Linked DNA regions of Homo sapiens. Changing the gene in region 2 together with the main gene of any one other region gives a genetic interaction. Each region holds a gene or a part of one and is shown on either strand. Other genes may lie near its edges.

Region 1 (4,030 bases), on a different chromosome or scaffold from region 2:
ATACTTATTTTTTTGTGTGGTAAGAACAACTAAAATCTACTCTCTTAGCAATTTTCAAGCATATATATATTTTTGTTTGTTTGTTTGTTTTTGTTTTTGAGACAGGGTCTTGCTCTGTTGCCCAGGCTGGAGTGCAGTGATGCAATCTTGGCTCACTGCAACCTCTGCCTCCCGGGTTCAAGTGATTCTCATGCCTCAGCCTCCTGAGTAGTTGGGATTACAGGCATGCACCACCACGCCTGGCTAATTTTTGTATTTTTAGTAGAGATGGGGTTTCACCATGTGGGCCAGGCTGGTCTCAAACCCCTGACCTCAGATGACCCACCTGCCTCAGCCTCCCAAAGTGCTGGGATTACAGGTGTGAGCCACAGTGCCTGGCCTCAAGTATATATTTTTAACTATAGTCACCATATAGTATAATAGATCTCCTGCACTTATTCCTGCTGTCTAACTGAAATTTTGTATCCTTTGGCCAAAATCTTCCAATTCTTTCTCTCTCATCCCCTGGTAACCACCATTCTGCTACTTCTACAAGCTTGACTTTTTTAGATGCCACACATAAGTGAGATTAAGCAGTATTTGTTTTTCTGTGCCTGGCTTATTTCACTTAGCATAATGTCCTCCAGGTCCATCTATGTTGCTGCAAATGACAGGATTTCCTTATTTTTTAAGGCTGAACAGTATTCCATTGTGTGTGTGTCTGTGTGTGTGTGTGTGTGTGTATCTATATCTCACATTTTCTTTATTCATTCATCCATTGGCATACATGTAGGCTGTTTCCATGTCTTGGCTATGGTGAATAATGCTGCAATGGATATGGGAGTACAGATACCTTGACATGCAGATATCATTTCCTTTGGATATATACCCAGAAGTGGATTATTGGATCATATGGTAGTTCCATTCAAAAATTTTTAAGGAACCTCCATACTATTTTCCAAAATGGCTGTACTAATTTACATTCCCACTGACAGTGTACAGGGTTTTTCTCCACATCCTTGCCAATGCTTATCTCGCTTTTTGATAATAATCATTCTGACAGGTGTGAGGTGATATCTCATGGTAGTTTTAATTCACATTTCCCTGATGATTAGTGATGTTGAACATTTTTTTCACATACCAGTTAGCTATTTGCATGTCTTTTTCTTTTGTTTTTCTTTTTTTTTTTTTTTTGAGACAGAGTCTTGCTGTTGCCCAGGCTGGAGGGCAATGGTGTGATCTTGGCTCACTGCAACCTCCGCCTCCTGGGTTCAAGTGATTCTCCTGCCTCAGCCTCCTGAGTAGCTGGGAATACAAGCGCCCGCCACCACGCCCAGCTAATTTTTGTTTTTTTAGTAGAGACAGGGTTTCACCAGGTTGGCCCGGCTGGTCTCGAACTCCTGACCTCAGGTGATCCACCCGCCTCGGCCTCCCATGCTACTTGCATGTCTTCTTTTGAGCAATGTCTTTTCAGGCCCTTGTCCACTTATCTGATGTAGGGGTCGTGAATATTTTCTCCCATTCCGTAGGTTGTCTCTTTACCTTTTTTTTTTTTTTTCCAGACGAGGTCTCACTCTGTTGCCCAGGCTGGAGTAAAGTGGCACAATCACGGTCACTACAGCCTCAACTGTCTGAGCTCAAGTGATTCTCCTACCTCAGCCTCCCAAGTAGCTGGGACCACAGGCGTGTGCTATCATGCCCAGCTAATTTTTTGATTTTTTTGTAGAGTTGAACTCTCACTAAGTCACCCAGTTTAGTCTCGAACTCCTGAGCCCAAGCAATCTTCCCACCTAGGACTGTCAAAGTGTTGGGATTACAGGCATGAGCCACCGCACCAGGCCAGAAACTCTACGTTTGATTCTAACCACAGCAGCTTAGCAGCTGAGGACAAACTGTTGGGATATTTTGGTCTCAGTCAATGGCAGCCAGGTTACCAACCCTGACAAGATACAAGTTTTCTTCGTTGGGTTCCTGGTACAAAAGTCAACCTTTTCAGTTACTTATGAATGAAAGGGCATGAAGATTGTGCTATTAGTTTATCCTGAAGGTCAATCTTCAAAAATACTGGTTCAACATGGATTTGGATATTATTAATATAAATTTATGGCTTAAAGAGGACAAAAGGTGTTTTTTTGGGTTCCTTTACAGAGATATTTAGTGAGGGAACAAGGCACTTAGTCATCTTTGCTATGACAGGTTAAATACAAGGTGTACTGGGAACATGTAAGAGGGTGACTTAACTCAGCCATTGGGGGGTCAGGAGAAGTGTTCCTAAGGAAGTGATGTCTAAGTGAGGTAGGCAGTACCTTGGCAAAAAAAACCTTGAAGTTAAGAGTGCATATGAGAAATGAAGGTATGTCCACCTGGCTGGCAAATGGAGTCTAAGATAGGGCAGTGATGATAAAGATATAGGAAGATGCTAGATCTGGAAGGGCCTTCTAAAAAGAATGACAATATAAATTTATTGTACAAATGGAGACTTTACTGAGAGTGAAACCAGGCAATATTAATACTTAGGTAGGGACAACAGATATAAACCAGGCTATTCTCAGCAAATCAGAAATTATGGTCACCCTACTTGTAAGTCACATTCAGGTGCTTAGACTTTCAGTGAAAGCATAGAGTATGTATCTTCTACATTTTGCCTAAGTGACTTCATTCTTTTTTTTTTTGAGACAGAGTCTCGCTCTGTTGCCCAGGCTGGAGTACAGCGGCACGATCTCAGCTCACTGCAAGCTCCACCTCCCAGGTTCACGCCATTCTTCTTCCTCAGCCTCCTGAGTAGCTGGGACTACAGGCGCCCACCACCACGCCCGGCTAATTTTTTGTATTTTTAGTTGAGATGGGGTTTCACCATGTTAGCCAGGATGGTCTCGATCTCCTGACCTCGTGATCCGCCCGCCTCAGCCTCCCAAAGTGCTGGGATTACAGGCGTGAGCCACTGCACCCAGCCAGTGACTTCATTTTTACTTTTGCCTTTACTTACTCATTTCACAAGTATTTGAGGATACACTTCAGAGCACTGAGGTTACAAAGACAACAGTGTCTGTCCTCAAGGTCTGTCTAGGTAAGACACACAGCCAAATAAACAATTCTAATACAGTTATACAGTTTTAGTTCTGACACCTCCAATGAGCTGTAGACTTGTATTTGTCATTTCCAGTCAGAATGCAAAACACAGATCCAAAACAGAACTTTCAATTTCTCCTCCAAATCTATTCTTCCTTCAGCTGGTCGTGTAAGTGATGCCACTATCACATCCACTTAAGACAAAAACCCAGAGGAGTACTGCCTTAATCAGTAATCAGTGTTACCCTTCTTCTCACTGTGCATGTTAATTTTGCCACATCTTTTTTTTTTTTTTTTTTTTTGGTACAGTGTCTCACTCTGTCACCTAGGCTGGAGTGCAGTGGTGTGATACTGGGTCAATGCAGCCTCAACCCTCTGGGCTGAAGTGATCCTCTCACCTCAGCCTCCTAAGTAGCTGGGACTACAGGCATGCGCCACTACACCTGGCTAATTTTTGCAATTTTTGTAGAGACGAAGTTTCACCATGTTGCCCAGTTCTCATGCCTCCTTGAACTCCTGAACTCAAGTGATCTGCCTACCTTGGCTTCCCAAAATGCAGGGATCCCAGGTGTGAGGCACCGTGTCCTGCCCTCTCCACATCTTTCTTAAGCACACTGACTAAATTGGTCTAAGTAGAGCCTAACATCAACTGAAGGGAGAGGGTAATTTCCAGGTAGTTGAATGCTATGATTTTTGTTTTTTTGTTTTTGAGACAGACTCTTGCTCTGTTGAACAGGCTGGAGGGCAGTGGTGCGATTTCAGCTCACTGCAACCTCCACCTCCAGGGTTCAAGCAATTCTTGCGCCTCCCAAGAAGCTGGGATTACAGGCATGCGCCACCACACCCAGCTAATTGTTGCATTTTTAGCAGAGATGGGTTTTCGCCATGTTGCCCAGGCTGATCTTGAACTACTGGCCTCAAATGATCCATCTGCCTTGGCCTCCCAAACTGCTGGGATTACAGGAATGAGCCACTGTGCCTG
Region 2 (3,074 bases):
TCCTATTAGCTTTCTCCCTCACATGGCTGGAGAATTGTAAGAATCCTACCACTCAGAACAAAGTAAGCGAGCTTAAAGAAACCCATGCCAAACTTTGTTTTTGTCCCGTAATTACCATAAAATCCCAATTATTAAGGCAGGAGTACTACACTTTACAGTTTAAAGCAGTGTTTCCTTCCAGCCCTGTTTATTCTATTCTCCTTTGGGTTTGAACTTCAAGGTCTACACTAGATACTTTCCAAGGCTGCTTCCTCTGTTGGTCAGATCAGACGCTGCTTTGTTAGCTGTGGTTGCTACAGAAGCTCTGTTTCAGTTCCAGAGCTCTGTGCTGATGGGGACAATGGAATATGATGCAATGATCACCAGTGATTCTCAGTCTCTCCTGAGACACCAGAAGGTAAGTCACAGTCTGAAGAGTCTCACTCAACCTTCTCAACACAATCTAGCTGAGAGACATGGGGAGAGGTGGAAGCACAATATTCAGTAGAGGAAAAACAAGATCTTGTTCTCTGACAGGTTTATTAGCTTTCATGTTAATGGATGTTTTTAAACCCTGCAACCCTCTGTCAACTTCTTTCCACATCAAGAGGCCATGAGATACAGTAATGGCCTCTTAAGAGTCATGCCACATAAAGATGATGACTTTGATGTCCTGGCCTGCCTCCTGTAACAATGTGAGGCTGTTTTGGGTACATGCTGTAATAACAACAGGACTATCACAGGAACAATGAAGCAGAGAAGCAGAAGGTGCCTACAAAGTTTTACCTAAATGTCTTGTTTGTCAGGATGGAGCTGATGCGCCCATACTGGCAGAACAATTAGCACAGAGTAGTTCTGAAAAGGAGGAAGAATTCACAAAGCATCAGTTATGGGTGCAGGGAAGTCGCCATCTGCCAATGGGCACCAGAGTGTCACTGTACTGGAAGGGGAAAAGGAGTGGGCTGGATGAGATCCAGGGGCCTCTCTGCCCATGTTCAAAGTCAGTAGCTGCTCTGCCTGCCGGCATCACAGTGTCAACACATTTTGTGTGTGTCTCACTCAGTCTCACACCCAAGAAAGTAAAAACAATTGATGTAGGAATAAGGGGAATGGATAAAGAATGGTACATGCTTATTCTAAAGCAGGAGAGCCTACAGATTGTTGTCAAAGCTCATGTCTATCTCTGTCCTCGAGGCCTCCACACCATCTCCCTCTCCCTCCTCCAGAATCCAAGGGATGAGCCCGTTTCCCTTTATGAGACGAGGTGGAGCAGTACCTCTAGTTTTTGGCTGCTCATGGCCTCAGAGTTGCTGTTTGGAAAGGAAAAAGAGCAGCAGAGGCAGCAAAGAAAAGTACTAGGGCAGCACCTTTAGGTTAGAAATAGATTCCACAGTTAAAAGCACAAGTATAATATGCATTAAACAGAGAAGGGCCTCAATAGAATGGTCACAATATGCAAGTGTGTCCCACTCATTTACAATATTAGGATTCCAGGAGCTGCCAGAAATAAGTCATCTCATTAACATACCTACCTGCAGTTCTGATGTCTGGCTATTAGTAAACAAGGCCTACGTTTGTTTCTCTAAAATTTAGAATCTTAAACTAAATCCTTTATTTCAAAAACAAACATAAAATAATTTCCCAGGCAGAGAAAAGGTTTGAGATGGAAGCGTTCTTGTTAGCAGTCCCTTCCTGCATAAATGGGGTTGGAGAGAGAGGAGAGAGGGAATGGCCAAGGGTATGGAAAGCTTTCACAATGCATGCCGAGTGTGAAGTGACACCCCCAGCAGATGGGGTTTATCATCTTTACTTAGTCACACAACATCAAGGACTGGTTAGTTCCAGGGAAGGGCTCCATTTCACTACCTGGGTCAGTTCTCTTCCCCCGCATGCTCCACAATGCAGTAGAACCAAACAACACATTCATTTACAATAGAATGTTTAAATAACACCTGTCCAATAACTGCCCTTACTTCTTTGTGCTGTCGGGAAAAGAAAAAACAGAAAGCAATAAAACCCAAACCCTTTGGCAAGCCAGCCGGTGCCTATTCTCCTGGGGCATTTTTAGTGGAACTTCGGCTGGGCCTTGCCCTCCTCCCAATATCAGTGAGGAAAGTGGCAGCGGGACAGGTTTGGTCATCTGCAGTGGAGTAGAAAGAGGAACCAAACACGATTCGGGCCACAGGTGGATTCTGGCACATTTTTAGATTGGATTGGTTAAAAATGTCATGTTGTACACAGGATGCAGGCAAAGGAGTTTTTTTTTGAGGGACATAATGCCTATAGGCAGCATGAACGGTCCGATCTACCCTTGGGGAGGAGCTCCCTGTGTAGGGACGGAGAAACTAGGGGGCCTCGAGGAAGGTGTTGGTTCGGAAGATGGAGGAGACAATCTTTCCGGTGGCATTGATGGTGCCTTCGCTGTCTGAGCTGGACTCGGAGTCGCTGCTCCCAGAGTAGGCACCCAGGCCTGGGAGGATGCCGATACATACTGCAGCAGAGGGGCAGTGGATGGAGGGGCCACTCAGGGAGGTGTTTCCGAGAGACTTGCAGGATGAGGGCTCTGCAATAAAAGGGGAAAGACTGTCACTTCATCACCCTTTTCCAAAGTTGGGGACTGACTTACCATGTGCCAGGCACTGTACCAAGGGATTTTCCCACAGAGGAGCCTTAGAACAATGCTATGCAGCCAATACTATCATCACCCTCGTTTTAGAGATGGGGAAACTGAAGGAGGAAGGGAGGCTCCAGGAGGTGAAAGGACTTCTGAAAGTAAAGGGGCAGAGCTGAGACTTGAATCAAGGTCTTTTTAACCCCAGAGCCTGACTACACTCTCTTGTTCCCCATCAAATCCGAGTTGGAGAACAAGCTACTCTGGAGTGTAGCCTAGAGTGCTTTGATTTCCCTGTGCTCACACAGCCGTGAGAATCTGAAAACAGATTAAGAGAGACACTGTGAGCAATATTAACAATTCCATTAAGTTCTCAGCGTATTACACCATTTCTTATTTACTGACCAATAAGCCAGCTAGCACAGATACAATTTTAAGGCCAAACATCAGCTACAAAATAACATTCTTTTCTTTTTAAACATTT

What was found.
Region 1: changes in PSME3IP1 (region 2) and ACACA together harm fitness less than expected from each alone (positive genetic interaction), as found in Homo sapiens cells (one large-scale study listed by BioGRID).

Annotation. Positions count from the first base shown.
Region 1 is NC_000017.11:37,400,040-37,404,069, forward strand, and holds part of ACACA (acetyl-CoA carboxylase 1), read right to left. Parts: intron 1-4,030. UniProt on the Homo sapiens protein: Cytosolic enzyme that catalyzes the carboxylation of acetyl-CoA to malonyl-CoA, the first and rate-limiting step of de novo fatty acid biosynthesis.
Region 2 is NC_000016.10:57,151,966-57,155,039, forward strand, and holds the end of PSME3IP1 (PSME3-interacting protein), read right to left. Parts: intron 2,543-3,074; coding exon 2,325-2,542; 3' UTR 501-2,324; downstream 1-500. UniProt on the Homo sapiens protein: Promotes the association of the proteasome activator complex subunit PSME3 with the 20S proteasome and regulates its activity.